Linked DNA regions of Homo sapiens. The protein of the gene in region 2 purifies or fractionates together with the protein of the main gene of each other region. This does not show direct contact. Each region holds a gene or a part of one and is shown on either strand. Other genes may lie near its edges.

Evidence for each region.
Region 1: the proteins of KDM5B (region 2) and CDX2 purify together in Homo sapiens (affinity purification with western blotting; 2 studies listed by BioGRID, with this or other methods). This does not show direct contact.

What each region holds. Positions count from the first base shown.
Region 1 is NC_000013.11:27,962,021-27,978,278, forward strand, and holds the start of CDX2 (homeobox protein CDX-2), read right to left. Parts: upstream 7,296-16,258; 5' UTR 6,987-7,295; coding exon 6,446-6,986; intron 6,274-6,445; exon of another isoform or gene 5,427-6,273; coding exon of another isoform or gene 5,237-5,426; intron 3,020-5,236; coding exon of another isoform or gene 2,996-3,019; coding exon 2,850-2,995; intron 1,350-2,849; coding exon 1,095-1,349; 3' UTR 1-1,094. Other genes in the region: URAD (putative 2-oxo-4-hydroxy-4-carboxy-5-ureidoimidazoline decarboxylase), read right to left, coding at 16,086-16,258.
Region 2 is NC_000001.11:202,801,298-202,817,051, forward strand, and holds the start of KDM5B (lysine-specific demethylase 5B), read right to left. Parts: upstream 7,125-15,754; 5' UTR 7,009-7,124; coding exon 6,805-7,008; intron 6,713-6,804; exon of another isoform or gene 6,666-6,712; intron 6,003-6,665; exon of another isoform or gene 5,680-6,002; intron 1-5,679. Other genes in the region: uncharacterized protein LOC124904583, read right to left, coding at 9,738-10,262. UniProt on the Homo sapiens protein: Histone demethylase that demethylates 'Lys-4' of histone H3, thereby playing a central role in histone code. Does not demethylate histone H3 'Lys-9' or H3 'Lys-27'. Demethylates trimethylated, dimethylated and monomethylated H3 'Lys-4'.

The DNA.
Region 1 (16,258 bases), on a different chromosome or scaffold from region 2:
TAATCTCCACTCCCTCTCTGAATTTTCCAAATCAGCTTGCAAGCAGAGAAGATATTTCATTTCTTTAAAAAATAAAAAATAGTTGCAGACAAAATCTGAAGATAAATACAGAATCTGAAATCTGGAAAGCTCATTTATCTCTTTTTCTTTTTAGAAAAAATTCAACTGTGTTCAAATACTCCCCACTTCCCTTCACCATATCACTTCTCCCCCCATGGATCCAGAAGGCTTTAAAAACTCTGGCTTGGATGTTACACAGACCAACAACCCAAACAGCAGCAACAACAACACAAACTCCCCCCACCCCCTTCTTCATCAGCCCCAAGATTGTGAAAATGACAGGAAGTCCAGGTTGGCTCTGGCATTTATAGCACTGACATACATTCAGCCCAGAGAAGCTCTGGTGACAGGCTCTCTAAACAAGTCCCTGTTCGGGCCCCCTGGTCAGGCCTGGAGTCCAATAACCACCCCCTCATACCACACCCTGTGCATACACCAGCCAAGCCTTTCCTGGTCTGGGAAGGGAAGAGAAAAAAGACGCAGGCCACCTGGGGGTTCTGCAGTCTTTGGTCAGTCCAGCTTTCTATCTTAGCTGCCTTTGGCTTCCGCAGTGTAAACCTTGCCTGCCCGGAGGCAGGAGGCCCAGCTGGACCTCCGAGGGCCATGAGCAGGCAGCAGCCATCTTGGCCTCAAGCTTGCCTTTCCCTTGAGTCCCTCTCTCCCCTCGGCTCTAGCCAGAGGTGCAGCCTGCAGATCTAGGAAGAGAAGAGCTGGGGAGGAGGATGAAGGCCTGGTTGGTGTGGTCAGTCCAGGCAATGCTTCTGCCAGTCCGGAATGAAGCCCAGCGGAGGCTTTCTGTCTCCTCAGTGGCAGAAAAAGCCAGATGGGAAAAAGTAAAAATCTGGGAGAGTATATTTCTTGAGGCCCCAAATCCCACTTGTCTTACTCCTGGCTCCCATTTTTCCTCTGAGAGCCAGGTCTGTAGGTCTATGGCTGTGGGTGGGAGGGGAGGGGTCTCTCCTGAGGAGTCTAGCAGAGTCCACGCTCCTCATGGCTCAGCCTGGAATTGCTCTGCCGCTGCAGAACCCGGTGGGTCACTGGGTGACGGTGGGGTTTAGCACCCCCCCAGTTGGCCCCAGAACCCCAGGGACAGAGCCAGGCACTGAGGCTTGCAGGGAAGACACCGGACTCAAGGGCTCTGGGACACTTCTCAGAGGACCTGGCTGAGGCTGGGGAGGCTGTGGTGGCGGCGGAGGCGGCTGTGGTGGCTGCTGCTGCTGTTGCTGCTGCAACTTCTTCTTGTTGATTTTCCTCTCCTTTGCTCTGCGGTTCTGAAACCAGATTTTAACCTAGAAATGGAAAGGTGGAGAAAAGCACATTGTGGTGAAGATGTGAGGGAAAAGAGGAACAGTACCCAGCAGTATCATCAACATCTTCTGCTCCAGCTACAGAACTCCAAGTCCTTCTAGAAGCTTTCCTCGGGCATCCCCATAACAGCCCAACCCTGGATCCATTCTTAGGCCCAATTCAGCCTCATGGGGAAGAGTCTTCCTCCTTCCTTGCTCCCTGAGTTTCTTTTCAAAGCAACTTTTATCTACGTATTTACTGCAAAAGTTTAAAGTCTCAGAACCAAGGAAAACTGAAACTGCAAGGCCCTTTCTACACAGCAAAGGGAGGCCAGTGCTGGGTGGTATACTTCAAATGGCAACCTTTGGCCCCTCAAGGCTAAACTAAAACGTAATTTTCCTCACCTTAGAGCTGAAAATGAGATTTAATTTTGTGGCTTCCTGGCTGTGAAGTTGGCCTGTTTTTCTAGACTATATATATAAAATGTTCATGAACCAAGTCTTGTCCCTCTAGTTTTTGTGAGAGACTGAGTACTTTATTCAGTTTATTTTCTTAGGTACAGTGCTGGAAACAAAGAGAATAGGTCTTTAATATGTCTTTATAGACCCAAATGGAATTCTGGATTAAACTAATACCCTTGGCTGTTTTTCACACTTCTTATATCCCTCAAAAGAGAGAGACAGAAAAAATCAACAACATCAAAAAAAGAGGACTAAAGGTAGAAGGAGGCTTTTTAAAAAAGTACTCCAGGGCCAGGCACAGTGGCTCACACCTGTAATCTCAGCACTTTGGGAGGCCGAGGCGGGTGGATCACCTGAGGCCAGGAGTTCGAGACTAGCCTGACTAACATGGAGAAACCGCATTTCTACTAAAAATACAAAATTAGCCGGGCGTGGTGGCACATGCCTGTAGTCCCAGCTATTTGGGAGGCTGAAGCAGGAGAATCGCTTGAACCCGGGAGGCAGAGGTTGCAGTGAGCTGAGACCGCGCCATTGCACTTCAGCCTGCACAACAAGAGTGAAACTGCGTTTCGACGGTGGCGGGTGGGGGGGCATGTACTCCAGGCCAGGCATGGTGGTTCACACCGGTAATCTCAGCACTTTAGGAGTCCAAGACAGGAGGAGCATTTGGAGTTTGAGACCAACCTGGGTAAGACAGTGAGACCATCTCTGCAAAAAATTTAAACATTAGCCAGTCATGGTGGCTCGAGCCTGTAGTCCAAGCTACTCAGGTGACTGAGGCAGGAGGATCCCTTCAGCTCAGGAAGTCAGGGCTGCAGTGAGCTATGATTGTGCCACTACACTCCAGCCTGGGCCACAAAGCAAGACCCCATCTCTGTTTAAAAAAAAAAAAAAAAAAAAAAAGGACTCCAAAGACGAATGCTTGCATCCTCCTGCTTCAGTCTCTCCACAGATTTAGATGGCCCCTGCAGCCAGATTTTCTAACTCTCATGGTCCTCTGCCAGGCAGTGGCCCGCCCGGAGGGAGCTAGGCGGTCCCCACCTGCCTCTCAGAGAGCCCCAGCGTGGCGGCTAGCTCGGCTTTCCTCCGGATGGTGATGTAGCGACTGTAGTGAAACTCCTTCTCCAGCTCCAGCCGCTGGTGGTCCGTGTACACCACTCGATATTTGTCTTTCGTCCTGGTTTTCACTGTGGAGGAAGGAGAAGTGAGGGCTGAGAACTGCAAGGCAGCCCATCAGTCATGGGTAATGACAAACCTCCCTAACCCAGGGACATTTCTCTTCCTCCACCACCCTGGGGGGCCCGGGTTTGGCTGGTTCCTGCCAAGTCTGACAAGACCCCCCAGAGGGTCCTGTGGGGGGAGGGTATGAGGCTAGTGGAGGCAACTAAACTAACCTTGGTATTAAGTGGTTTTTAAAAATTAAGGAAAGTGAAAACCTCATTCACACAGAAGACAGCAGAATGTAACCACCCTTTCGGTAAACCAAATACAGTACTGGCATATATTTGACACCAAGGGAAAGGGGGCAGGGTGAAGTGGCCGGGATCCTGGAAGCATCCAGATTTCCAGGCCTACCAGAGATGGAAGCCCACCCCGAAAACAGCTGTCATTGTGGGCACATGTTGTAGAGGGGGTGTGGGGGTTACTACTTTGCTTTACTACAAGTGGAAAGCGGGGCTCAGGAGCTGACAAGTCGCCAGAATCATCCCCCAGACACACCAGGCCCATCAGGTGGAATTCTGAGCTGGGCTCTGGCCGAGGGAACAGGCAGAAAACCCCTCCTGCTGGGGACACTTTATACCTGCCCAGACCAGGTTTGGCGTTTGGTACTTTTTCTTTTTTGATCCTCCATTTATTCCTGCTGCAAATCCGGCCAGAGTTATCCTGACCAGTGATCTATGCTCATTGGATTGAGTCAACATATTAAATCCCAGATTGATTGTTTTACTGAAGGGCCTTGACAAATAGTGTCCACAATGTTGGAGCAGGCCCGAGCCTGGCGTCTCCACCAGGTCTGTCTTGGCTCAGCCCTTGGCAGAGCCCTGGCCAGAAGCTGTTCTCTCTGGCTCCGTCCCACTTTTGGGTCTTCTTGCAGCTGAACAGGTTCAATCGCCCAGTGCCCAATCCCACAGAAAGATCTGAAGGGCCTGGGAGTTGCCTGGAGGTGTTTAATGCCCCGCAGGCTGACTTTGTTCAGGTAAAACCCTTTGCAAACCACAACAAAAGCGTCCTGGGAAGATACAGGCCTGATCAGAGGGAGCTCCCCCGAGCCGCTGAAAGGCCAACACAGCCGCAAACAATGCAGGACAAGGCGATCTTATCAAAGAAAAGCCCTTTCAATGCCTTAATAACAACCACATTCTGTTTGAATTACCACTACTGAGCAAATGGCGGCCCCGGCTTTCATCCCCCTCCCCGCCAGGCGCATTAACATAAACACGACCCTGCAGGCGCATTTGAATGGGGCTGCGGCCCCGACCCCGCGCCTGCTATGAAAGTAAAGGGAACTAACGCGACTTTCTCCGCGGTGGACGCTCGGACACGCGTGACCGCCTCAAACCCACTCCAGGCTGCCATTGGTACTCGCCCCTTTTTACAGATGAGGAAATGGAGAATCAGACCGGGTCACGCAGATAGTATCAGGCGGGGTTGGCACCGGAGCCTGGCTGGAGCCACAGAGGACACCTCCGGAGCTGAGGCGCAGGGCAGTTCCCTCAGCCGAACACCCCGGGAGGGAGACTCGCCTGGAAGTGTCTCGGAGCGACCCTTGCTCGGGTGCTGCCCCTTCAGTGTCCCGGACGTGCCGGGCAACGCGATGACCAGACCCTGAGCGCTCTTCGACCCATGCCCCAAGGGCCTTGGAGGCGCCCCACACCCCCTGGGAACCTAGGAGCGGGGCTATGGAGGGGAGGGATGAGAGGGACTTGTCAGAATTCATTATTGACTGCGAAAGTCACCACCCTCTTTCCGGGCCCTAAAAGAGACAATGGCAGGGCTGGGAAGGTGTATATCAAAGCAAGCCAGGCCGCGTCCCCCCCTCCACCCCCACACCTTGACAGATGACGCTCCGCAGAGGAGCCCGGCTCCGGCCCGCGGGCTGCGGCCACCCCACATTAACATCACAAGGGCACCCGGCGCCGACTGCGGCCTTGCCACCTCGGCGCAGGACTTCACAGCGGCCTCTCATCTGCTGACCCCGCGGCCTGGGCTCTGGCGGCTTCCCTCCCGCCCCCTTCCCGGCCCTCACCCCGCGGCCGCTCTCCCGGGACACGCAAAGGTCTTCCTTAGGGCGTGCGCCACCCCCGCCAACCGCGCCCCAGACAGGGGCTGTAGAAAGTGGGTCTTTGGGAGCCAGGATCTGGGAGCCCCTGCTAGGAGAAAGGCGCCTCCTCTAGGAGAAGGGACCAAGCCAAAGCTCTGAGGCTCACCCGAGGCTGATCTGTGGCCTTCTCCCCGGTCGGCGGCATTCCCACCAGGACTCTCCCTAGCATGTGCACAGTGACGCAGAAACCGATGCCCAGAGACAGCCCCCAAAGGGCGCTTTGATTTATACAGTTGTAATTGGCTATAAACTTCTGCAAAGTGCCCATAACCAGCGTGCCTGCCCAATTGGGGCATCAAGGAGCGAAGCAAGAAAAGCGGAAGCGCTGAGGGCTGGGGAAAGACTTTAAAAGGGGCACTCAACTAGGACTCTCCCCACCGCACTTCCTTGCCACCTCTAGGCACACTCGAACACCAGAAGGGGCAGACCCAGAGTCAATGAGCCCCACAGTCCGGCAAACCTAGGATCTTTTTCAGTTGCACACACACACTCACAGACATCCCTGACACCCTTGAAAGGAAGCTTTGGGAGAAATGACCCCTACCTGGAGCGGCGGCTTAATTCCCACCAGGGTTTCCTCCCCGTCTCCCTGCTCTCTCCGCAGACGCCTGCCCCTAGGCTTCTTGCCCCTAGCCTTCCAGCTTTTGCTTGAAATGACCCCTTCACAGGTCAGAGGTTCAGAGACGGGGCGCGCCCCCGTCGCCTTAGCAGCTGGGGCTAGCACCTTCTTCCCAGCGACAGCAGCTCTCCCTGGTCTGCCTGCTCGCTGTACCTTGAATTGGCCCGAGTGGCCAAACCCGGTCCCACACACAGCCTAGCCATCCTCCGACCCCCCCAGGTCACTTCTCTTCTTAGATGGCTCAGATGGGGAAAGAGAGAGCGGAGATAAATGGCCTAGACCTAGCCCAAGAAGGTTCGAGCCTCCCTCTCTCCTCGGCGGCCAGGAGCCACGCAAGGAATGCATGCCGCAGCAAGTGCCGGAGGACGCGATTCTGCCGGCGTCCAGCAGTGCTCACGCCGACATTCCCCGGAGCTTCCCGAAGGTGTCCCGGGGTTGCGAATGAGGAGCTCTTGGAAAGAGGACGCCTGAACACGGTGTTGAGACTCAGAATATTCACTCCCAGGCTCAGTAGGTCAGAGAAGCCCCGACGGGCCAGAGGCCCCCGAATTTGTCTCCGGGCCGTGCCCCTCCTGGCGCCGAGCTCCCAGACAGCCCGGGACGCCCCTGTGCGCACTGGACGCGCGACGCGCAGCAGCCACTGGCTCGACCCGCGCCTTCCCAAGCACCCTCCGAAGGGGCGCAGCCTCTGCTTACCTTGGCTGCCGAGGGACTGCTGCGCCGGCTTCCGCATCCACTCGCACAGGTTCCGCCGCTGGCCGCCGGGAGACAGCTGCTCGGCGGCAGCGGTGGCGGCGGGCCCAGGAGGGCCGGGGTTGAGCGTTTGCAGCAGCCCAGAAGCGCAGGAAGGCGCGGCGGCCGGGTGGTGCGGGTGGTGATGCGGGTGGTGGTGCGGATGGTAGTCTGCGGGGCTGCTGTAGCCCATGGCTGCGGCCGGGGAGCCACCGTTGAGGCCGTGAGCCACGGCGTTGGCGGCGGCCGCGGCGCCTCCGGGCGCGTAGCCATTCCAGTCCTCCCGGAGTGGGGCGCCATACGCTGCCGGCCAGGATGGCCCCGGGGACTGCGCGCTGTCCAAGTTCGCTGCCGCTGCAGCTGCGGCCGCCACGTGGTAACCGCCGTAGTCCGGGTACTGCGGGGGGCTGACGAAGTTCTGCGGCGCCAGGTTGAGGCCGCCAGAGTGGCGCACGGAGCTAGGGTACATGCTCACGTCCTTGTCCAGGAGGTAGCTCACGTACATGGTGGCGAGGGTCCGGGAGCAGACCTCACCATGCTGCCTGGGGACCGACGCTGGAGGCTGCCGGGGGGCACGAAGGGAAAGGGGCGAGGGGACTCGAGGAGCGGCGGGTGGCTGCGCCCCAGCCCGCGGTGCTCCGCTGGCTCCTCGCGGCTCTTCTGCCTCCGAGGCGGTCCCTCCCTCTGGCCTGCCTCCTCCCTCCCTCCCTTTCTTCCTTCTTTCCTCCCACCTCCTTCCCACTAGGCTGCAGAGGCGGGGAAGACCCGCCACAGGCTGGCGTGCGGAGCCCCAGGCCGGCGGCCTTCCGTGATTAACGAGTGTTTACAAGACTCTATTAGTAATGACACAGACACCAATGGTTGGAGACGTCGAGGCGCAGCGCGCACTCTACGCACAACCCCTCGAAACATAATTTGCATTTTAAAAGATAAAGGGGAGGGAGGCTCGTGAGAGGGCAGCGACCTGACACAGCTAAATATTCAAACCTTTATTGTTAAGAGCTTCCTCCTTCCAACCTGGTGCACTTTAACCTCCAATCACAGGTTCAAAGAATGAAATCAAGAGACTTACAAAAGAGAGGGGAAGAGAAAAGGCTATCTTGGTAGGAATCTGAGCTTGGAGACAGGAGCAGTGGTTGTTTATGCATTTGCAGGGAAGAGGGCGGTCAAGAAACTCCTTCTGTCCCAAAGAGAAAAGAAAAGAGAACCATTGCTTTGATGAGAACGTTTCTGACCAACCTGGTAGGTGACAAGCAGAGAGCCCTAAGAGATGGGCCATTCCTTCCCGCCCTGTGCTCCTGGCCCGGACGACTGCAGCCCCAAACAACTGTCACCTCCAGTTATTTTCTTGCCCAAGGAAATTACTCGCCCTCCGCACAAGACAAATTATGATCCTAGATTCAGGCTGCATCTCTGACTTCATCTTACATTTGAAATTTGAGTTAAATTCAAGCGATTTATTGTTAAACGTTTACATTCAAGAATCAGAAGTTTTAAACTACAGAAGTAATGGGCATGTGGTAGAAGTTAGGCTAGTGGTTATTGGCGTGCATAACTGGAGGCGAGCTAGGGGATCGTTGGTAAAGCAGTTTCTTAGGCTGCTGGTTACACAGAATGTCAGTTTGTGAAAATTCATTGAGCTACACTTGTATGTTTATTATACTTAAATATAAGGAAAAGAGAATTTCTGCTAATGCTTACCTAGGTATTTATGTGTCTTACATCATACCTGTATCTTTAAAACTCTCTGTCCTTTACAAAGGGAAACGTTCTCCGAAGAAATTTATTTCTCATTTCCAGGAGATGATAAGGCAACTCAGGGCCATTATTAACGACTGCTAATGAAAAGCTCTGAGTTGAGAAAGGATCTCTCTTGGTTTGGGAAGCGCTGCGGCCAAGGGGCCTAGGGCTGGAAGTGGCCGTCTTGGGGACCGAAGCCGCGCAGCCCGGGATCGGGAGCTGCCCCGACAGGAGCGCGGAGGCGGCGAGATTCGGCCCCCGCGCGCGCCCAGCTCGGTTTCAGCAACCGCGTGGAGTGGGCCTGCGGCCGCCGTTCACCTCCTAATACAAGCCTTTGACAGCGCTGCCAGATTCGGGAATGAGGATCACTGCGGCGAGGCCCGGCGGGCTGGGCAGCCTGACTCGGCGGCTTTGAGCGCTCTCAGAACCCGCGGGCGCTCGCGGCACTCCTGGAGACCTGCACTTGTCTGTTCTCATTGTCAAGCGTTTCGCTCGGATATTTGTCACCATCGCCTTCATCCTGTCATTTCTAGGGTGCTCTCCAGTGTCCTTTATCTCCCTTGAGCCTCACATCCCCCTAGGATCTAGAACAAAATCTGGGAGGTGTTTTTATCCTCCCCATTTTACAGGTGACAACCAGCAACTTGCCTCTGCAGACACCTGAAAGCGATCAGAACTAGCCTAGGGCTGCGGGATCCCCTGTTTTCTGGTTCCTCCCACCCTTCGTGTTTGTAAGGAAGAAGGCTGGAAATGGGGGTGGTGGGGTACTCAGGGGCCAAGGAGCTGTGCACTCAAGAGGTGGGAGACCGAGCTGGTCCTCCTGGGGGACTTCCAGCGCCTGGCCTGGACAGCCGAGTGTCATCGGACTTCCTGAGAAATACAACCGGAAGCAAATTGCAAACCCCGTTACAAAATCCGAATCATTGAGAGAAGGGCAGTAGGGGAGGTCCGCAGACCTGATGGGGTGGGAATGTGGGAGGTTAAGTGGTGGGCACTTCGAACTTTTGATCTAGCAAACATCTTCCTCCTCTTCCTGGAGACACAATTCCCCTTTCCATCCCCCATACCATCCCCGCTCCCAGGCCTGAGCTCTGGAAGCCGAGGCTGAGGCTCCAGCCTATGTCTTCGGAATGCGGGCATTCTTTGGAACAATCGCTTTATTAGGGACAGCCATTCCCTCCGCCCTGCGGTGGCCGCTTCCTGCTTTTTTATGGCCCAGGCTGCCGGCCGCTGGCTAATTGTCCCTGTTTTCCAGCTGTGTCTCTGTGCTGTGCCCTGAAGACGTGGCTCTGGCCTGCTCATCCAACTGCTTTGGGAGTGGCCAGGGCTGCTCTGGCCCCTCAGGTCAAGCCAGGCCTCAGAGCAGGCCAAGCCACAGGGAAGCCCGAGGCTCACTTGGAGTGCTCCAGCCATGGAAAGGAAATCATTGTGAACACGAATGTTTCCCTCATTGCAAAAAATGGGTCTCCTTAGCAATGGCATGGCACAGCTGTGGTCCCAGGGTCTAGACCTGTTCGGTGAGGGGAAAGGAGCTGGTAAATGATGTCCTCGGACAAGCTTCTTAGAATGTAAGCGTCCCCATACATCCTGGTTGCTCTCAGCCAGGAGAGGGCCCAGCTGGGTCCCTGAAAAGGCAGGGTTGTGGGAGCAGTCAGAGAGGGGTAGAAGGTGGCTGACAGAACTCTAGGAGCCTGGTTGTCTTGGCATTTAGACAGCCCTGGCCCCTAGCAGGTTGGTGCCCCATGACTGGCCTCTGGAGATTCGCTCTGCTCAGGGGCAGCCTCTCCAGCTTCTAAGTGCAGGCCTGTGTCCCTGGGAGGAGGCAGAAGCCACCCACATCAAGGCCCCATGCAGGGCTTTCTTAGTCCTAGGCCCCAGGTGCTTGGCGTCTTTCTTAGGAGCCTTTTGGCCTGCACTGAGAAGCCCCCAGGAAGGGACAGGGATGGTCATCCCTAACCCTCGATGCCAGAAGGGCCCTTCTACCCTGTAAGTCCTGCTGCTGGGCCAGAGAAGCCTGTAGCAACTCACTCTGGGAGAGGCAAACTTGTTTGGGAAGCTTGGGCCTGCGGTTGGCCTAGGGCTGAAACTGCAACCCCACAGAGCCAGAGCTAGAGCTGACATCTAAGGGCAGCAAAGGGTGGGGAAAAAAAGAGACCCTGGTAAATGAAGCAACAGTAAAACTGCAGGAGTGGCCACGATCAGGTTATCAAAAGGATGCCTCTGTTACTGACAGAGTAGAGGCCATTCCACATTCTTCAGAGAGGGTCCAGGCATGCAGGATCCTGGCTGGTGGCAAGGGCAGGGGCCACAAAGGGGGTGGGAAGCAGGAGGCTGTTGGAAGGGCGGGCTGCCCCTCCAAGCAGATGAAAAACTCCTGAAATCCAGACATCACTGACACAGCTCCCTCCCTGTTCAAAGGTCCTAATATTTGCTCTGACTAAGGGGACCATGCTCTGCCCGATATTTGTGGCTCCTGGAAACTGGGGAGCCCATTGGCTAACATAACCCAGTTAGGGCAGGCCATCTCTATCCACCTTAGTATGTAGGTTGACTTTCTGAATCTTTTTTAGATCAAGAAAATTGTCCAGCCAGGCACAGGGGCTCACACCTGTAATCCCAGCACTTTAGGAGGCTGAGGCAGGAGGATCACCTGAGCCCAGGATAGCAAGACCCTATCTCTACAAAAAAAATTGAAAAATTAGCTGGGTGTGGTGATATGCACCTATAGCCTCAGCTTCTTGGGAGGCTGAGGTTGGAGGATGGCTTGAACCCAGGAGTTCGAGGTTACAGTGAGTTATGGTTGTGCCACTGCACTGTAGCCTGGGTGACAGAGGGAGACCCTGTCTCTAAAAATTTTTTTAATTTGAAAAAAGGAAAATAAAACTATCCAAATAATATAGTCCTTCTATACCTTGCACAGGAAACTCTTACCTTGCATTGACCTGAATTCCAGGGATAATTAAGGAGGAGTGAAAAGGAAGAGAATGTCAGCTTTCAAAATTATTCAGCTTGGCCATCTATACTGATGTGGAAAAACAGCTCAATCTCTACTTAATTTGGAGTTTAGGGAGTCTTTCAGCCATTGCACTCAATCAGCCATCTACTCACACAAAGAAAGGCTCAATAATGGTTGGTTTGACCCCAACAACCCTGCCTTGCCCTGCCACAGCCCACTCAGCTAACATCTCTGGGAAGGAAATCAATGACATCGTCCTTTCTGTAGGGCCTCCGGAGAGTCCGCCACCTGTCCAGCCCCATCAGGCCACAGTGGATCCCAACATGTCCATCCTGAACAGCAGGGAGGGGCCGCAGCTGCCTACAGCCGCCCAGGCTTCATTCACAGAAGCAGATGTCTCCTTGCCCAGTGGAGTGAAGCATATTTTCTTCCCAAGCAAACTGGGTGTCTGACCCTCTCTACCTGAGGAAAGGTTTCTGAATTAATTGGGAGGTCATTGTGGGCTAACATGTTACCACTCAGGGACCAGGCTGCAGGATAATGGGATAAGAAAAGCCAGCTGTTTTACTCTTGTTGTGAAGAGACCACCAAGATTTCTGATCCAAGGCAGGGAACAACTTTTTTTTTTTTTTTATGCTTCTCTATCCAAAATATATTCTCACATCCAAGAGATCAAGGAAAATTAAGAGCCTCAGGAGAAAGGGTAATATTTGGGTACAGAAATCTGGTTTGGTACATTGGGTAAAAGTTAGGCAAATAAATAGTCGTTGCCCATTTTCTTCCTTTCTTCTGAAACTAGGGCCTGTGGACACTGGGCATTGTATAACACATTCTTTGTGGTGGGTGAGGACAGAGGATGATTTAAATCCACAAGAGGGAGTGACTTGGAGGTCTCAAAGATTGGTGTCCCTACTGGGAACCAGAACTTCCACCCCAAAGGAAACCTCTTGATGCTAGGAGCCCAGGCTCCCCGGGCAGCACCAGCCAACTGTTACCACGTGGCTTTGGCGTGGAGAACTTTCAATGAACATTTGTTCCCTCACCATTGTCTCGTGCCTGGAATGACCTTTGTTTGCCACATGAAAATATGTTCCTAGGAAGTCCTACAGGGTAAGTTTCATGTGGCTAAGGGAAGGAGCTTAAATAAAGGTTCTGCTCCTCTTGAGTTACTGTCCCATTGGCTAGCTACATTCCCTGGAGGGGAGTCAGGGGTCTTAAAGTCTGTGTAACCTTTCCATTTTACAAAGGTGAACCCAAGGCTCAGAGAGGTTAGGTGATTTTCCCCAAGTTGCACAGCTAGCTGTTCAAGTCCCTTAAAGTAAATGAGCTACAGTATGTGCATTCTTTGCAACCCATAGCGATCTGTATAGATGTTTATTATTACTACAGCTGCTGGTGCCACCCTGGCAACATGGCACCCCAAACACAAAACCAACTAGCACGATTAGAGAATCCCATTTTCCCACTCCCACCCCCTGCACCAAATAGCACCAGAACAATCAGGTTCTGCTATTGCTACAATTCTGACCATGCTCCAGGTCCTATGTCTTTCACAGGCACCCCATAACTGTGGTTTATTCATTTATTGCATGAATTTTCCATAAATTCCATCCCAGATTTTTCTCCAGTTGACAAAGATGGTATCCATCTACTTTTGTCTCACAGTAAATACTTTCTTAGAATAACTCCTCTTGGGCCGGGCGCCGTGGCCCACGCCTGTAGTCCCAGCACTTTGGGAGGCTGAGGCGGGTGGATCACGAGGTCAGGAGTTCGAGACCAGCCTGGCCAACATGGTGAAACCCCGTCTCTACCAAAAATACAAAATTAGCTGGGAGTGGAAGCGCGCGCCTGTAATCCCAGCTACTTGGGAGGCTGAGGCAGGAGAATCGCTTGAACCCGGGAGGCGGAGTTTGCAGTGAGCCGAGATCACGCCATTGCACTCTAGCCTGGGCGACAGGGTGACACTCCGTTTCAAAAAAAAAAAAAAATCAGTCAGAACTGATATCCTGTGGCTAATCTCTAGAAATGTGTCATATTTAAAATGGGTAAAGATCATGTATAGAATTTATGTTGCCCTTTTCCCTTTCTTTCCTTCCAATTTTAGTGTCTGTAGACATCTTTTGGGCACACAGACCAAAATGCCTACCTTTCTGGGTTAATAAAGAGGAGGCCCCATTCCGTATCCCAGTTAAGTTACACAGGTGAGTGACAAGCCCGGGTCGGCTCCTGAGTTCTCATCCGGAGCTGCGCTCTCCCGTCTCTTTACTGGGAGCGTTCTCCTGCCGGGGCTTGGACATTTCCAAGGGAAGTGAAAATCCACAAAGCTGCCCCCACTTCGTAAGGGCCTGTGCCTGGAGGGTCGTCGGGTTACAGAAATTGAAATCAGCTCTTTGCCTTCCAACTCTTCTTGGCCTTGCCACCGCGATTGGTTTTGTTTTCTTTGTTTTTAACGAATTGGTAAGTAAAATATTAGTTGTTCACCCTGAAATCTGCCCTAACCACTTCCGTACCCCCTGAAGCTCGCTGGGCGCGCCCTGGGCTGTCCTTCCCTGAGCAGCCGGGCCTAGAGTCAAGGCGCGATGATTGCCGCGCAAGCTAGGGTCCACGCGGCCGGGGCTCCTCTCCCGCCTCGGGCGCACCAGAGGCCAGAAAGCGGAAAGCGGCTCTGCCAGGCCAAGGCCGACAGAAACCGAGAGCATGTCGCTATTTGCCGGAGAGAACTGCCCTGCCAGGCTGCCACAGGTGACTTGCCCGCGCGAGCCACGGCCTCTGCGCAGAGCTCCTCCCGAAGGGGAGAGTCAGAGCCACCCGCGGGTTTGGTCGGGGCTCTTCCCAGCCCGGCGTCCACGCCCCGCGTCCTGCGCTCGCCCTTGCGGCTGCTTATGCTCAGGTGTTTCGGAAGAGGCGCCGCGCAGCCAGCTCTCTGTCCCTTCAGCTCCAGCTCCTTCTAAAGGGACAGACTCAGCGTCTGCCCCCATCTGCACCCCTTCCCGCAGGAATAAAATCATTTTCCGGACAAGCTTGGAACTGTTGAAATGTAACTATGTAATTGGAGACACCGGGGTCGTGTCTGGGAGATTCTGAGCTCATCTACACTCTTGCTAAACTGCGGGGAACCCAGCCCTGGTGGGATCTGTGCATCTCACATGAGCTTTTTTACATAAAGAGCACAGACGCTGCATTTGGGGCCTGGTTTATCTAAGCGTGGGGTTTACCCCCAGGCTTGGGACTGGGTGCCCCGAACACAGTGGATTATTCTGAGTCTTAGGCCCAGCCTTGGTATTTGGGTCCTGGGTCAGAAAATCCTCTTTACCAAGCAGCAAGTTATTGTGTGTGTCAGGAAATCCCCCAGGTTACCCTGGCTAGAGAGAGGCAGGTGTCTGGCCCAGGCCCAGCACCCCACCATTGTTGCAGGGTCCCAAAGAACAGGAGCGAGCCACGGAACTTTCTTCATGGTGTGCACTCGGCGCTCCTACACCCAGAGAAGGTGTCTGGCCACAAGCCTAGGGACGCTGGTAGCACAGCCCGCTTTCCTAACACCTGCCCCACTACCAGCTTCTATTTCCTTCAGCCTTACCACAGCAGGAAACACTGTGAGATGGGAACGGGAAAAGGGCTTCCTTGCCTAAAATTCCTAGTGCTTCAGGAATGATTTATTTCTATGGAACATCAGCCCCAGAACCAAGGGTGCAGCCACGCAGCTCTTTATGGAAAGGTTTCCTTGCTGCTGTTGCTGCTGCTGCTGCTAACCCTGGACACAGTTGGTGACTAATAGAAGCTCTTGTCTTCAAAAGGGCCACCTCTGGCCTTCGCCTATTACCTTGTCTTTGTTGGGGAGACCATGGGTGTTTCATTTCTCCTCTGCCAATAGAAGCCTAAGTAGTATTTGTTGGGGCTCTTTACACCTTCCCTGTGTTGGGGGGGGCGGGGGGGTGTCGACGGGTGGTAGAATGTGGTGGGCTCCTCCGCAGGATGCTAATGTACTTTCCCCCAGTGGACAGTCTGGCTGCTGGTACAGGAAGCTGCCCAGCCTAATAGGGGTCTGAAACTCCAGGGCTGACAAGCAAAGATTTCTATGGGCACTTCCCTCCATTTAATCGACACTGCAATCTCGCTTCATTCTGGGGTCCAAATACCCAGCGCTGCTCAATGTTACTATTTTAATAACTGATGGGTTTCCCGGGGCAGTCGAGCCACCCCCCCAAAGCCGACCTCCGGGAGAGATCTTTAGCTGGACGCCTCCCGCCTTTTAGGAGCGATGGCTGCAACTATTCCGTCCGTCCCCACGGGGCGCCTTCCCAACCCTTCGGTTGGCTCTTCCCTTCGCAGGGCTCTTCCCGGCCCACCGCCTCCTTCCTGCGGCTTCCCCGGCTCCCCAGGCCGGACCGAGGCCAGCGTTTGACTTTCCTGGCTCCCAGTCTGCTCCCCTAGTGCCCAAGAGCGAGAACACCGCTTCCGCTCACATGTAAAGGTCGGGCGCAGCAAATGAAGTGGGAAAAGAGAAAAACAGACAAACCGCTGTGGCATAAAAGATTCCTTTTCCGTCCGTTTTGCTTTGCAGTTCGGGCTTAGCAGGAGAGGGTTGGGGAGAACTGGATAAACGCTTTGGAATCCACAAAGGCCGGTGGTGTCGGGGGCCGCAAAGGGAGTGAAGAATTGAAGCAGTGAGCTGGATAAATCCGGGGCAAAGCACTAAACAATATGGATATTTTGGCAACGCGTGCGCGTGTGGGTGGGCGGACAAAAGGACTCATTACTCGTATGATTGCCTCAATTCTCCACTTCCTTTGTGCACGTGTGTGGACGCTGTTCCAGGCCCGAGTCCGCCTCCCGCCCAGGACGCACAGCTCCGGGCCGTGGCCCCCGCGCGTCCGGTTGTGCGTCCCGGGTCCCTGGCCCGCGCGGCAGCTACAGCTTGGCGGGGTCTGCGCGGAGGAGGTCGGCCAGGCGCAGGCTGCCGATCTTCTTCACCTCGCCCAGAGCAGTGCGCAGCTCCTGCGCGGACGGGCAGAGCAGCCGGCGCGCCAGCTCGCGCGGCACCGCCGTCCGGTCGCTGAAGCGCGCGGCGAGCACGAAGGGGA
Region 2 (15,754 bases):
GATGACTCTAAGGCCATGTGTAAAGATATATGCTGATGGTGCTTTAAGAAGGATGGTCTACAGTTAAAGGACTGAGTGTCTTAAATCATGGTGGGGGGTAGAGGACTTAAAAGAATGCATTCCAGTCAAATTCTGCATCTTTGTTCCAAACATCCTACAATTATGGAACTGAAATGCCTCACTGTCCTAGAGACATCTTTTCTTCATTAATCTGGTTCATAAACTTGGTTGTAAAAAGCAAATTCAAAGAATTCATCTAATAATGACAGAAAAAGAAACATTTCTGAATGAATTTGTGGAAGTGTACAATTTAATTTTTCATTTAATTTTTATTTACAATTTTCATTTAATTTTCATATTAATTTTTCCTCTTTAATCCCATGCAAGGACACAGCAGTTAATAAATACTTAAGAAATACTTCTCAATTGCATACCATTCTTATGTCTAAAACAAGTTTCTCACAATCTGGATTTTATAAATCCAGTTATTAGTATCTCAAACTTTAAATAATCAAAAGTCAATGGCAGCAGCCTAAGAATATGGCTTTCCCAAGGTATCAACTCACCCACCCACTCACCCCAAAGAGACTTGTCGGTACGCCCTCTGGTGAGTCCCCTTCAAGAGACCCAAACTTAAATTTGAGAATGTGTAGCCCTCCAGTTCCCAACCTTCATTCCATCTTTTTTTTTTTTTGAGGCTGCCAATGATCTGTACTATAACAGGTATATTAGAAAATACCAAATTCTCTTAGAGAAAAAAAAATTGCACAACAATCTCAACACTGAGAGGACTGTCCAAGGATGAAAGCAAGGTACTCCTAGGTTAGTAGTTTTTCAAACCTATAGATGGCATTTGGAAAGAAGTACACGCATAGGCTTCAAAAAACCCTGAACACCAGAAACCTAATTAGCACTTTCATTTTAGGGGCACGGGCTTTCCCTTATCCTTTTCTACAGCCAACCTTAATGGGGTCCAATTAAGGCAACAATGAAAGGTTACAAAAGTCTACAAAAAGGTCCCATTACAGCATTTAAACAGGGTTCATTTTTTTTAATCAAATAGTTTACACTGTTTTTTTGTTGTTGTTGTTTGTTGTTGTTGTTGTTGTGTTTGTTTTCTTTTTTGAGCCTGTTGCCCAGGCTAGAGTGCAATGGAGTGATCTCGGCTCACTGCAACCTCTGCCTCCTGGGTTCAAGCAATTCTCCTGCCTCAGCCTCCCGAGTAGCTGGGATTGCAGGCGCCTGCCACCATGCCCAGCTAATTTTTATATTTTTAGTAGAGACAGGGTTTCGCTATGTTGGCCAGGCTGGTCTTGAACTCCTGACCTCAAGCGATCCGCCCACTTAGGCCTCCCAAAAGTGCTGGGATTACAGGCACGAGCCACTATGCCCAGCCCTGTATTTTTTTACCCAAGAGAAAATTCCCCCACTGGCAGATTTCTACCCACTTATAAATGTAAACCAGTAAACACATTTTTCACTAATCTATCAACCTGAAATACTCTAATACTCTAAGTCTAGGCCAACAGGTCATAAAGAAAATTACCCTAGAAACAGAGAAAGAATAAAATTAAGGTTTAATAATTTTCTCTTAATTTTTCTTATCAGTGTCTCAACAAAATAATTCAGGCCAGGTGCACTGGCCCATGCCTGTAATCCCAGCACTTTGGGAGGCCAAAGCGGGAGAACTGCTTGAAGCCAGGAGTTCAAGACCAGCCTGGGCAACATACTGAGAAACCGCATCCCTACAATTTATTAGAGGCTGAGGAGGGAGGAGCACTTGAGCCCAAGAAGTGGAAGCTGCAGGGAGCCTTGATTGCAACACTGCATGCCAGCCTGGATGACAGAGTGAGATTAAAAAAAAAAGGAAATTTCAGGCCCTGGCTTTTAATAGAGAATGTTTATTAATGTTTTTCAAAGGTAATTCTCTACTCATTTCGCTCTTTTAAAAGTTTAGATTGCATGTTTAAAACCATACCCTATAACCATAGGAAGGGAAGGAAATTTTTCCAGTGGGGGTGGGGACTCAAATCTTTAGCTGACTCATATTTGCAATATCATTCACATTACATTCTTAAAGTCTACACGTTTTGTTTATTAGTTCACTAAGAATTACAACTGGGTAGATATGTTTGTGGCTACTAATGTGCCCAATTTACCACTGGCAAAGTCAAATTTAGCTAAACACCCATTCAATAACTACAACAAATGAAGTTTGTTTTAGCTTTAAGGTAGACATTTGTGGCCTAGGTGCGGTGGCTCACGTCTGTAATCCCAGCACTTTGGGAGGCCGAGGTGGGTGGATCACCTGAGGTCAGGAGTTCAAGACCAGCCTAACCAACATGGTGAAACCTCGTCTCTACTAAAAATACAAAGTTAGCCGGGCGTGGCGGTGCATGCCCACCCAGCTACTCAGGAGGCTGAGGCAGGAGAATCGCTTGAACCCGGGAGGCGGATGTTGCAGTGAGCAACATGACGTTGCGCCATGGCACTCCAGCCTGGGCAACAACAGCAAAACTCCATCTCAAAAAAAAAAGGTAGACATTTGTGGCCTAGAACTGTAGGACTTAATCCAACCTCCTACCAGGTTTTTCTCCTGGGCATTATAGTCCTAAATTTGTCTTAAAAGGTAGTTAGGGGTCGGGGGAGGGGGGAGGGAAAGCATTAGGAGATATACCTAATGTAAATGATGAGTTAATGGGTGCAGCACACCAACATGGCACATGTGTACATATGTAACAAACCTGCACGTTGTACACATGTACCCTAGAACTTAAAGTATAATTTAAAAAAAGGAAAAAAAAAGTAGTTACAAGTGAGTTCAGGGTTTCTTTTGAGGGAGATGAAAATGTTCTACAATTGATTGTGGTGATGGTTGTACAACTCTGAAAATATCAAAAACCACTGAATTACACATCATAAATTCGTGAATTGTATGGTATATTTCAATAAAAGGGTTTTTTTTTTAAGTAGTTATAAGTTCTTCCTTTGCTCAAGGATGTTTCTACTGATAAGCCTCTTCTCTAAACGTTAAAGGCTTAAAGTGGCCAAAGATACAAGTAGGGAAAGATTTCATGACACCAAAGAAATAGGGAAAACAGAGAGAGGGTTAGGCCTAAGTCGATCAAACCCCAAATTAGGGAGAATGATACGCTGGAAAGGGAGTAAATGAGCTCCATATCATTAACACTTCTACCATACAAAGAAGTGTATAAGTTCCTCCCTCTTCTCTAGGAGTGGAACCAACAGGCTCACTCAAAAATGGTGACTGTATTAAAACATTTAAGGGCAGTTTTACACTTGGCTATAAAGATGAAGGAATCAAACTAGTAACCACAAGAAGTTAAAGCTGAAAAATTTTTGTCTCTTGTGGCCTCTGGGGTTTGATTTAAACCTTCTCCGGACACAAAGAAGAAATCTGTGGAATCTAGGCCCGGCACGGTGGCTCACGCCTGTAATCCCAGCACTTTGGGAGGCCGAGGCGCATGGATCACCTGAGGTCGGGAGGCAGAGGTTGTGATGAGCCACTGCACTCCAGGCCTGGGCAACAAGAGCAAAATTCCGTCTCAAAAAAAAAAAAAAAAAGAAATTTGTGGAATCTATCTATGGCCAAATGTGAGACATTTGAAAGCAAGAAAATAAGTTACTAAAGCCATAAATATATTCCTATCAAAATTTGGGAGACAAAAAAGTATTTACTGAGCAGCCAACTATTTTTCTGCCTAATAGTTACACCCTTAAAATTACTCATCTCCAAATACCACAAAGTGATATGGAAAAATATCATTTGTCCTTAAACAGACATCTAAGTACAGTATCATGGAGGAAATTAAAAATTTGCATTTTAAAGGTGACAAAACCAGAAGCCAGATGAATTGTAAATTTAAGAAGGTTTTGGTCCAGAAAACAAGCCTGGTTATCCTACATAGTTGATATAATTTGAAACAAAGGTTTGTATTAAACTTCAAACTCAGATTTGAAGTATAGTCTTCTTGACTTAATCACGTTTTCTCACATTTATCTTACTATATTTTCAAATTTCTGAGAACCCCTAAGCTGCCATATACAAAATAATGTAAGTACTCTAAGTTTTCAGAAGCCAAGCAGTTTGGGAGTCTCACTGAGAAAGCAGCTATAAACTGAAACTATATTAAGTACCATTGGTAAAGATACAAAGGTAAGAACAAAAGGAGACAGAAATGTTTTATACTTCTCCTTACCTTCTAACAAGTAAAATACCAATAGTTCCAATTCCCCTTCTAATATAACCATTTGTGTTCCAAAAACTCGGTGAACAAAAATCATCCAGAAATACAGACATTATATATATCACCATGGAAAATATTTCACACTTCTTGAAGGGTTTTTTTGTTGCTATATATCAACTATATGAAACCACTTGTTCACAGTTAGCTTTCCCAAAAACAAAACAGTTTCTAAAACAAAGACTGTTTACATCTCTTAAGAAGCCTTTGTTCCAACAAGACCCCTCTTCAAGAGCTACAACTTCTGGAAAGATTTCCCTTTTTGTGGTTATATCAACAACAAATACTCTCAAACTCTTTCCATTTGGCAAAGGAGTTTGTTAAACAAAGGAGGAAGCAAGTCCCCTCCACACAAAGGAGGTCTCCAAACAGAGTACTGGTTGTATTTGTAGATTATTGGTGCCTCTTTAACCCCTTTCCTCAGGCTGTACTATGTAGCACTCTCAATACAAAATGGTGGCCATCATGTCTGTCTGACATTCAGAGTGAGAAAAAGGCAATTCGATCACACATTTTGCAAAGATTACCATTAATATTCTAGCCAAGATGAGGAAATGGGTAGCCAAGCCTAACCAGAGCAACACTATCTTTTCAGAAAAAGGGCCCTCTAAAAGGCAAAGAACAAGAAAACAAGATAAAGGATTTACCCCAGCCCTGGTATACCACAATACCAACATGGAGGACACCTCCCAGGAACCTGACTCCCCACGTTTTGGTTACTAAGAACTTAGTCAAGTTACCCAATTTCTGAATAAAATCCCATTATGCAAATGTGCAATATTCATATTCACCCTTCCTAGCATGTGACATGAAGCTACATTACTACAGTGTGAAACATGACCTATTATTCAAGAATTAAAACCTTGGCTCTAACCAGCCCTGTTATAACTTCTGCAGGCCTCTTTGCACTAAGAGAAACGTACTTCCCTTAAGCAGCAAGAATCAACCTTGCCCACTTCGCTGTAAGAAATGGATCTATTTTCAAACATTTCCCTCATATTCGCTGGCCAGTTATTTTCTGAAGCATGTATTTCATCTCCATTTTCAAACTTGCTTAAGAAAAACTAAAGTAGGTGTCCGTGTTTTAATTTGGGGCAGGGAAGGGTTAAGAAGCCTTATTTTCAGGGATCTCCCTGAAAACAGCTTTCCAAAACATAACGATTACAAACAGAATCCCTACAACTCAAAATGTCATTACAAAAAGCAAGCTTAAGGGAGAAAGGGGTGGGAAGGGGTCTTCCTCTACTTAGAAGTGGGGGTGGGGGAAGAGAGTGGGGAGAAGATTCTTAAACAGCAGGAAAGGCAGTTAAACCCGCTTCCCAACGGTCCCAGCCCGTCCAACCGCCGCTTAGGCCAACTCGGACTCAGACCCTCCCGAAAGGTGGGCAAAAAAAACAGGGGTGTAGGAGCGCACCCAGTTCCGGCCACGGAGGAAGGAGTTGGCCGGGCTCTCCTCAGCGAACGTTGGAGCCGTTACGGATGGTTTCAGCAACACCCACCCCTCACTCACTGCCCCCAGGCCCGAGGCGCTGTAGACAGGGCTGGAAGGGCTGCGGTGGGTGACTGCCTTTCAGTGCCCGGAGCCTGAGGGCCGGGGGAAACGAGCACGAAATCTTCGGAGGTCTCTCCGTCTGACGTTCCCCTACAAACACGGCCTCGCCCGGACCCCATCCCCACCAGCACAGCCCAGGCCTCCCCGGGGAGCCGAGCGGCTGAGCCAGAAGAAGCCGGGAGTGTGCGCGTTCGGGAGCGCGGGCGGGCATCGGGGCCCACCGCCGCCCGTCCTGCCCCCGCCGCCCCAAAAGTGTCCCCCAGACACTAACGCCCCCCACAAACATCCGCTCCGGGGCTGGACCCGCGGCTCCTCCCCGCCCCCAGCCAGCGCTGGCCGCCCCCTTCTTGACCCCGGCCCGGGGGACACCTGGAGGCCCGGGGACCAGGCGGTGGAGGGGTGCCCTGGTCTGGAGGGTGGGGCGCCCAGGTGAGGGCCGCTCCGGGCCGACGCCGCCACCACACAAAGGACCAGGGGCTCCCGCCGCCATATTGAAAACTTTCCTCCTCGCACGACAACTCGCAAGTCCCCCACCCCCACCCCACCCCATCACACACCCCCGCACCCCGGGAGCGGAGGCGAGGACCAGCCTGCCGAGCCTCGCCGGGCCCACAGTCCTCCCTCCAGCCCGCGCCTCCGCCAGGCTCCGTGAGGAAACTCCCCCGCGACCACCCCCGGCTCCTGCCATCACTCCATCCGGAACCGAACCCGAACCTCCGCACCCGGCCGCCCGAGCCCCGCGGCGACCCGGCCCTCCCATGGCACCGCCGAAGCCCCCGGTTCTCCCACGCTCCTCATCTCCCACCCTGGAGAAGCCCCCGTCTTCCTCCCCCGGCCTCAACTCCGACCTTCTAGGCAGCCCCAAACTTGACGAGGCCGGCGGGGCGACCGGCTCCCCGCCCCCCGCGCCTCGGGCCTCCCCGGACCCGCGCGTCCCCGCTCCCTCCCCCAGCCACGAGCTGGATCCGGGGTGCTGGCGTGACTCACCGGCGGCGGCCGCACCTTACAGATGCCAGTCTGCTCGGCTATGGGCCGGATCTTGTGGATGAAAGCGAAGGGGTCCGCGAACTCTTCCCAGCTGGGTTCGAAGACCGGGCACTCGGGTGGAGGCAGGAACTCGCCCAGCGGGCCCGGGCCCCCGAGGGGCAGCGCCGGGCGCGGGCCTGGGTGCAGTGTGGTGGCCGCCTCCATCACCGCAGGCTGGGCAAGGGCGAGGCGAAGGTGGGCTCCGGGACCGAGGCTGCGAGCTCCGCTCGGTCCGAGACCCGTGCAGACGCGGCTCGAGCAACAGCAAGTCCGAGTTGTACGGGCAACGGCAGCACCTTGGGCTTTTTCAGCCTCCGACGACGACGTCTCGCCGCAAGCCCACGCCGTGCGCCTCCGCCGCCACGGCGAGGAAAAAGAGTCCCACCCCACCCCCATCGACCCACCCTCCGCGCGCGGCTCCCCGCCCCGCCCCCGAATCGGGCGGGGCCGCGCCTTCCGCTGTGGATGGAGTTTATCCTTAGGGTTTCAGTTGAGCCAACTTTTATTGACCATTTACTATGTATCAGAGTTCCTGCCCTGAAGAAGTTAAGTCTGGTAGAAAGGATCAGTCCCATAAGCCAATCATTCAATCACGTCAGTACACAATGGTAGGTGCAGTAAAACCCAGGAGGGGGTTTTGGAAAGAGTATTGGAAACGGAGAAGGATTTTCCAGTAGAGATAACAGCTTGAACATACACATAGCATGTTCATGAGAAGGCAATAGTAGTAATAATAATAATAACGTAACATTTTGGGGCACTTTCATATCCTAGGCACTGTTCTAATTGCATCGCATGATTAATCACACAACCCTATGAGATAGGTACTCTTATTTCCACTTTACAATAAGGAAAGTGAGGCATAGGTAGGTTAAGCAATTTGCCATAATTCACATGGCTAATAAGTGATGGAGACTATTGGGAGGTGGAGATGTTGCAGGGAAAATAATCATCCACAAACAGTCTATGACGAGGTCAGACTTGAGAGGGGCGAAAGACTTGAAATAATCCAGACAAGGAATGATAGGATCTAAATTAAGGCAGTGGTGCTGATAATTATGAGGAAGGGATGCAAAGGTAGGAAATAAAATTAGGACATAGTGACAGATTGAGGGGGGACGACGAGGTATTAAGATTCAGATGTCTGGCGTACCTGCCTGAGTAGATGCTAGCCCGTTGGCATTGCTGGAACATTCACCCCAATTATATACAGAAGGCGAGTTACTCAAGGGAAGAAGATACTGTGTTCATTTCTGGACATTTTGAATTTGAGGTGTCTCTGGTACATACAGGTAGAAATACACAACGGGGTATCCTTCAACAGACTGAAGGGTATAAATCTGAAGGGGCGAGATCAGAATTGGAGATATAAATCTGGGAGTTATGTGCTTATGGGTGATAGCCGCTATTTAATGCTACTGTGTGTAAAGCACTGCTCTAAACGCTCTGCATGTATTAGCTCACTGAGTCTTCACAACCACCATATTGAGTAGGTACGATATTATCCTCATTTTGCAGAGCAGGCAACGGAGGCAAAGAGGTTAACGAACTTTAAGAGATACGAACACTTTTGAGGCGCCTTTTTTCTTTTGGCGGGAGACGGGGGACGGGGGTGGGGGGGTAGTGTCCAGCAGCCTCAGAAAAAAGGAGGAAGCTCAAAAAGTAGAACGTCAACATTGAAATGACCTCTTTCATCCAGAAAGCTGCCAAACGTATGCAAGGAATGTTTGTCAAGATCTTAGTTCGCTTTCAGATTCACCTAGTGGAAGGAAATCTCTTATGCTTAAGAAGTCTTCAATTAAAAGGGGGGATGGGCGTGGGGGGAGAAGAAAACCGCCTTCCCTTCAACAAATTTTTCCCAGAGGTACCGGGCCCAGGAAAGAGTTCACAGTGGTCCTGGGAGAACGTATTCCTTTTCTTAGCTCTCCAGGGCTTTGGGACCTGGAGTCTTTTCCTGCTCCCTACTGCAATGGAGAGTCAAGCCCAGGGGACAGCTAATACACTATTAAAAGAATTATCAGTGCAAGATAGATATGCGATGTGGCAAGTTATAATAGAATCTAGGTAGTGGGTATAGAGGAATTTGATGCAAATTTCTTTTAACTTTACTGAATATTTAATAATACTAAATAAAAGTTGGGTAGAAGAATTATCGTCGATGGCTCTTTGGTGCGCATTCTGGGCCTCCGAGGGTCTTGATGAAGCTCATGTAGTGTCATGTGCTCTCTCGGGAGAGCGTTGACTATTTTCACTCCTAACGTTGGCATCCTACGAGCCAGGTAGGCATAACTTTGAGACAAATTCTAGACTTACATGAGTTATGATTATTATTTAACTGAGATGGACAGGAAGAACAAGCCTAAGAAAATCTTTCCCAATTCTCAGCTGCGTCCTACGATTCCCTCTCGCTCCCAACTCTCAAGGTCTCCCAGTCCGGCTTCCTCCATTTCCGGTAGTGACCCTAAGTGATGAGATTCTATCGCTCCCAGATCAGGCCGCAGCTGTTTGGCTCCCAGCAGACCCGGTGTGACGTTAAGGGACGGGGCGGTTGCCGGCGTCTTGAGGGGAACCTAGGGACCGAGAGGACTCTCCGGGAAGGCAGCCGCTCCCCCGCCCACAACAGACGCTCCCCTTGCCCTTTATGATGTTTACATGGGCGGAGGGATCCCTCCCAGCTGACAGCCACACCGCGCCGGCCCTTCTTTTTTTAAAGAGCCTAGCCACGGGCGCTGACTGGCCGGCAGCCGGGCGCGTCATCCTCCGGGGGCGGGGCCCGGGCCGCATTGTCTCGTCTAGGGCCGGCTGGACGCCCCAGAGGCCGGACCTGGGCAACCCCAGCCTGGAGGTGCCGGGGCCGGAGCTCCCAGAGGGCTGGGTGCGAGGCCTAGGCGGGGTCAGGTTCGGGTTCCTAGGCCATAGCGGAGCTGCAGCCCAGGCGGCCGGAGCGGAACCCAGCCCCGCTCCGAGTGCCACGTCTCCAGGAACCCCCTCCTTACTCTTGGACAACACTCCGCCCCCGCCCGGGCCTCCGTCCCCCAAACCGCCCTCATTTGTGCAGCGCCAGATCCTTCGGACACATCCCTAGGTGTCTCCATCCTCATTCGGTCCATCCAACTCCCAGACCTCACGTCAACCGGCTGCACCCCACTTTCCAGCCTGCGCCCCAGATCTGCAGCCTTCGCCCCTAGATACACCCGCCTGGTGATGAGGCGCTCCTCGCGTTCCTTCCGGTAACCGCGTTGCGAAGACCACGCTGCCGGGTTGCAAACTTGGGGGGACTTCCTCCCTCCCCTCCCCCTGGGCGCCGTGCAACTGCCCTGGGACCGGGTTCTGGGATGAGGGGGGCAGACCGGGCTCCCCAGCGGCCGGCGCAGCACGTAGCGCACGTGTAGGGTCCGCTCCCCACCCCCTCGCCGCCTCTGACAACTTTTCAGGGCTCCAGGTGTCCGTGAGCCTCCCTTCCGCCCTGGCCTCCGGTCTCTGCCTTGCTCGTGCTTCTACCACCACCCTTCCCCTCCCAACCCGGTGGATCCTCTCGTCTCCCCCAGTCTCCAGTGCACCGGCTTTCCCTCGTCCTCTGCGCAGTCCATCTCAGCTCATCTCTCCAATTCAATGCCATCATCTCTCCTCACCATCTCTCGGTGCCCTGGAATGTTTGCTGTCAGATGTCCCCTGTGAAACCCACAAACGCTTGCGATTTGGCCTCCTTGTTTTATTTTGTGTAGTCCTACAACGTCTTGTTACTACCCCCTATTACAACACTTATAACTCAGTATTTGTCTTTTTTCCGCGGTGTCCCTGCACTCTCCCCATACATATTCCTCTCCTGCCAGATTGTAAGCCTCTAGAGGGAAGAAGTAATGTCTCTCTCCTTGGCACCAGGCACGTGGCACACGCTCCACAAATATTTGTTGAAAGGGAGGGTAAATGGCCTTGAGTTTCTGTGGCTACCATTGGCTGAGGATGGAGCTTTGGGCTGGACAAAGAAGAATCTGGTTGACCACATGAAGCAGGAAGGAGGCTCAGAACGGTGTTGAGGGAGCCTCCACAATGGGTGGGCACCACAGGTGAGATAAACCCATCCTCCCCCATTCCCTGCCCTGCTTAATTCCCGGGAACCAGCAACCCCTCCTATGCTATCGTCTACTGCTGAGCTGGTCCCTTATGGTGGACTTCTGTGCTCACTGTTCTGCTTTAGCCCCAGCTGTCGGGGCTGCCCTTGGGGAACAGCTTACACCTTGACCAGGCGCTCATTTCTGGGTTTCTGTTCTTGGGAAGCTGGGTCTGGGTCCTGGGAGCCACCTGGTAACTAATAAATACCTCTTCCTCCTCCCATCTGCTCTTCCTCTCCTGTCCTGGAATCCCTCTCTGATGACTCAGCCCAACTGAGATCCAGGGTAACTGCACCCTCAGTCCTGGGCTTTGGTTTACCTGGGTGTGGGGCTCAAAGGGCTAGACCCTTGTGGGGGTCAGGCGCTGACAAGTGGAACATTCCCACGGTGCTGCCAGCCCTGCCCACGGGGATTGGGAGGGGCAAAGTTAGCCACACCAGGGCTTCAGGGCGTGTTTCTTCCCATTCCAGTTGGGCAACTTGAGAAGCCCTGGACTCCCAAGGAGCAATCCTGTGAGCTGCTTAGAGAAGCTGTGAGGATTAGAGGGAAACTCATGTTCCCTGTTCATCCCGCAGTGGCACCACCAGCACCCCTAATTTGGGTCTCTGGGCTGAGGGGCCCCTGGCAGCATGCTCAATGGCCTTGGATAGCTGGAATGTTTGGAATTGCCTGCATCTTGGATGAAAGTCTTAACAATAGAATGAAAACTGCTGCAACACTGTGTCAGCACTTTACAGACCACCACTGTAAATTCCCAGTTGAAACTGGGAATTTGGAATTCCATGTTCAACCAAATCATGCTGAGTGCCCAGCACAGCGTCTGACACACTAAATGCTACAGGTGAATTCCCTTTTTCCTCTTTCCTGGCAGGAAGCGGGGATAGGGGAACCACTAGAAATACTGTAATAACATGAATAAGACAAGGCCATTAGCCGGGAGCAAATCATAGAACATCAGCCCTGTGAAATGAGTGGTATTAGTGTTACCATTTTTCAGATGGAGAAATTGAGACTCAGAAAGGTTAATTAGCCAAAAATCACACAGACAGTAATAGCAGAGCTAGGAAAAGAATGTTCATCCTAGTACCTAACTTTGATCTTCCCAAAACACCAAACTGACTTCTAAAGCTGAAGAAAGAGGACACAGAAGCTTCATCTCAGATCTCACCACCAGCTGCCCCTTAATCTGCCAACATCGAACCATTCTCTCCCCTCTAGACTACAGTGGCTTCAAACTTTGACTTATCTCCAGTATTTTTTTGTACATAGCAATAGCAACAAAAGTTTCACAAAACAATATTACCTTTGTATGGCCAGGCACGGTGGCTCATGCCTGTAATCCCAACATTTTGGGAGGCCAAGGCGGGCAGATCATGAGGTCAGGAGATCAAGACCATCCTGGCCAACATGGTGAAACCCCGTCTCTACTAAAAATACAAAAATTAGCCTGGTGTGGTGGCGTGTGCCTGTAGTCCCAGTTACCCAGGAGGCTGAGGCAGGAGAATTGCTTGAACCCAGGAGGCAGAGCTGCAGTGAGCTGAGATCGCACCACTGCATTCCAACCTGGGCGACAGAGCAAGACTCCGTCTCCAAAAGAAAAAAAATAGCCACGTGTGGTGGCACACACCTGTGGTTCTAGCTACTTGGGAGGCTGAGGTGGGAGGATCCCTTGAGCCCAGGAGTTTGAGGCTGCAGTGAGCTATGATTGTGCCACTGCACTCCAGCCTGGGTGACAAAGCAAGACCCTGTCTCTAAAAAGTAACAATAATCGGCCGGCACGGTGGCTCATGCCTGTAATCCCAGCACTTTGGGAGGCCGAGGCAGGCAGATCACAAGATCAGGAGATTGAGACCATCCTGGCTCACACAGTGAAACCCCGTCTCTACTAAAAATACAAAAAATTAGCCAGCCATGGTGGCCAGTGCCTGTAGTCCCACCTGCTGCGGAGGCTGAGGCAGGAGAATGGCATGAACCCGGGAGGCGAATCTCGCAGTGAGCCGAGATTGCGCCACTGCACTCCAGCCTGGGTGACAGAGAGAGACTCTGTCTCAAAAATAAAATAAAATAATTTAAAAAAAAACAATAATCTTAATTTCAGTCACTCCCTCTATATTCCCCATGAACAATGGAATTTTCCCAGAATATCGTCTACATCATATACAAAATCAATAATTATATCTTTTCTCTTCCATTTATTTTTCACCATTTATTTTATTCACTGGTCTGTATTTATTTATTTATTTATTTTTGAGACAGAGTCTCCCTCTGTCACCCAGGCTGGAGTGCAGTGGCGCGATCTCACTGCAACCTCTACTTCTTGGGTTCAAGAGATCCTCCTGCATCAGCCTCCCGAGTAGCTGGGACTACAGGCACAGGCCAAAACGCCCGGCTAATTTTTGTATTTTTAGTAGAGATGGGGTTTCACCATGTTGGCCAGTCTGGTCTTGAACTCCTGACCTCAGGTGATCTGCCTGACTCAGGTGATCTGCCTGACTCAGCCACCCAAAGTACTGGGATTACAGGTGTATAATCTGCCACCCTGCCTAGCCACATTTTCCTTCTATCTCTACCCACAGCCCTTCAACCCCAGGGATCACTTTGTGCCTTATCTTTATAGCACCCTATGCTAAACAGGTGCCACATCTAAGACCAAGAAATAGCATAGAGTCTTCGAACCTCTCAAGACCTGAGTGAAAGCAAGAGTTAAAAACTCAAATGCCTGTGTAGAAGCCAGACAGGTACATGGGGGAGGTGAACAAAGTGAAGTCTGTGGAGAGGTGAGAATGCAAGTCCAGCTACTGGGGGCCATCACTGCTCAGACCAGGGTTGCACCACGTTTCCATTTTTCAAGAGAAGCCAGTTATTTAGGCTTTTATATAAAAGCTCTCCCAGTTTTTGTTTGTTTGTTTGATTTTTGTTTGAGACAGAGTCTCCTTCTGTCACCCAGACTGGATTGCAGTGGCATGATCTCATCTCACTATAAACTCCACCTTCCGGGCTCAAACAATTCTCCTGCCTTGTCTTTCCAAGCAGATGGGATTACAGGCATGTGCTACCACGCCTGACTAATTTTTCATTTTTAGTAGAGACAGGGTTTTGCCATGTCGACCAGGCTGGTCTCAAACTCTTGGCCTCAAGTGATCCGACCACCTCGGCCTCCCGAAGTGCTGGGATTACAGGCGTGAGCCACGCCTGTTCAGCTCTCCTAATTCTTTTTTTTTTTCCCCCCTGGCTGGAGTGCAGTGACACGATCTCAGCTCACTGCGACCTCTGCCTCCCAGATTCAAGCTATTCTCCTGCCTCAGCCTCCCAAGTAACTGGGACTACAGGCACGTGCCACCGCACCCAGCTAATTTTTTATATTTTTATTAGAGACAGTGTTTCACCATATTGGTCAGGCTGGTCTCAAACTCCTGACCTCATGATCCACCCACCTCGGCCTCCCAAAGTGCTGGGATTACAGGCGTGAGCCACTGCACCCAGCCTCCAATTCTTAAATGTTCAATCTTTCATCAGATTTTTAAGAAACAGTGTGTGGGCCAATTACACATGCCTGTGGCCACGCCCCTTCTCCACCTGCCAGAAGAGACTAGTGGGATGATGAGATTCTTGCCCTTCAGAAAAAACAATGGTTGCCAAGGGAGCATTAGCTACGGTACCCAGAGATAAATGCTGGAATGGAGGTGAGCTCCTGGCCCATCCCTACCCTATGGGTCTAGCTCATGCTCTTAGGCTTAAAGGAGAACTCTGGCTTCCAGCAAAGTGCAGAGCCCACTCCTGGAACACACACTGGCAACAGGCACACTGTCATGGATGGCCACCCCTAACTGCAATGTGGATGAGGAACCTGGGTGGGGTGTCAGGGCTTTTTAATATTTATTTCTCCTTCTCTATTTTTTGCCTCCTCTAAATCCCTTAGAAAAGTGGGAATCAGATGGCAAGATACAGAAAGGTTCTCAGAGTGTTGTGCATCTGTGTGAAAATCTAAAAGAAAAAAAACTGGGATGAGGATTTAGGAATAAGGGAAGATGGACCTCTCAGGTATAATGGGAAAGCAAGCAGTGCTGGTCTCCATGGTTGAAGATGGTAATCATTCCTTACAGAAACAGCTAACATTTATTGAGTGCTTGCTATAAGCCAAGAATGTTTATGTGGATACTCTCTTTTTTCTGTTTTTAAAAATAATAACTATTTATATAGGATGATCTCTTTTGATCCTCGTAAGAACTCTTGAAAGTAGCCATCATTTATTTTTATTTTTATTTATTTTTTGTTAGCCCAGCCCTGTCCTGGGTAGCCATCGTTTTTATCTCCATTTTATAGATGAGGAACTGGGGTTCAGAGAGGCTGTCATTTGGCCAAGGTCACATGGACAATAAGTCTTGCAGAACCAGATTCCAGCTCTGGCTGTCTGAGTCCCGAATCTGAGCGCTTAACCATCACCCATATACTGCCCTTCTCTGGAGTACTGCCCAGTCCCCCTGACTGACACCGCTGTGCCCCTAGCACCTAGCATAGTGTTTGTTGAAGAAAGATGACCATTCACCATTATCATGTAGTCCCTATAATTGGCAAGTTAATAAATACTTGTTTAGCATGTTCTCTGGATCAGGTTTTATGCAGAGTGCTATGGATACAGCACTGAATCAAACAAAGTCCCTGCCCTTTAAGGGCTTATATTCTAATCTAGTGGATGGAGACAGACAATAAACACACACACAAAGAAGTAAGTTAGCTTCTGGTAGAAATAAATGCTGAGAGGCCAAGCGCAGTGGTTCGCGCCTGTAATTCCAGCACTT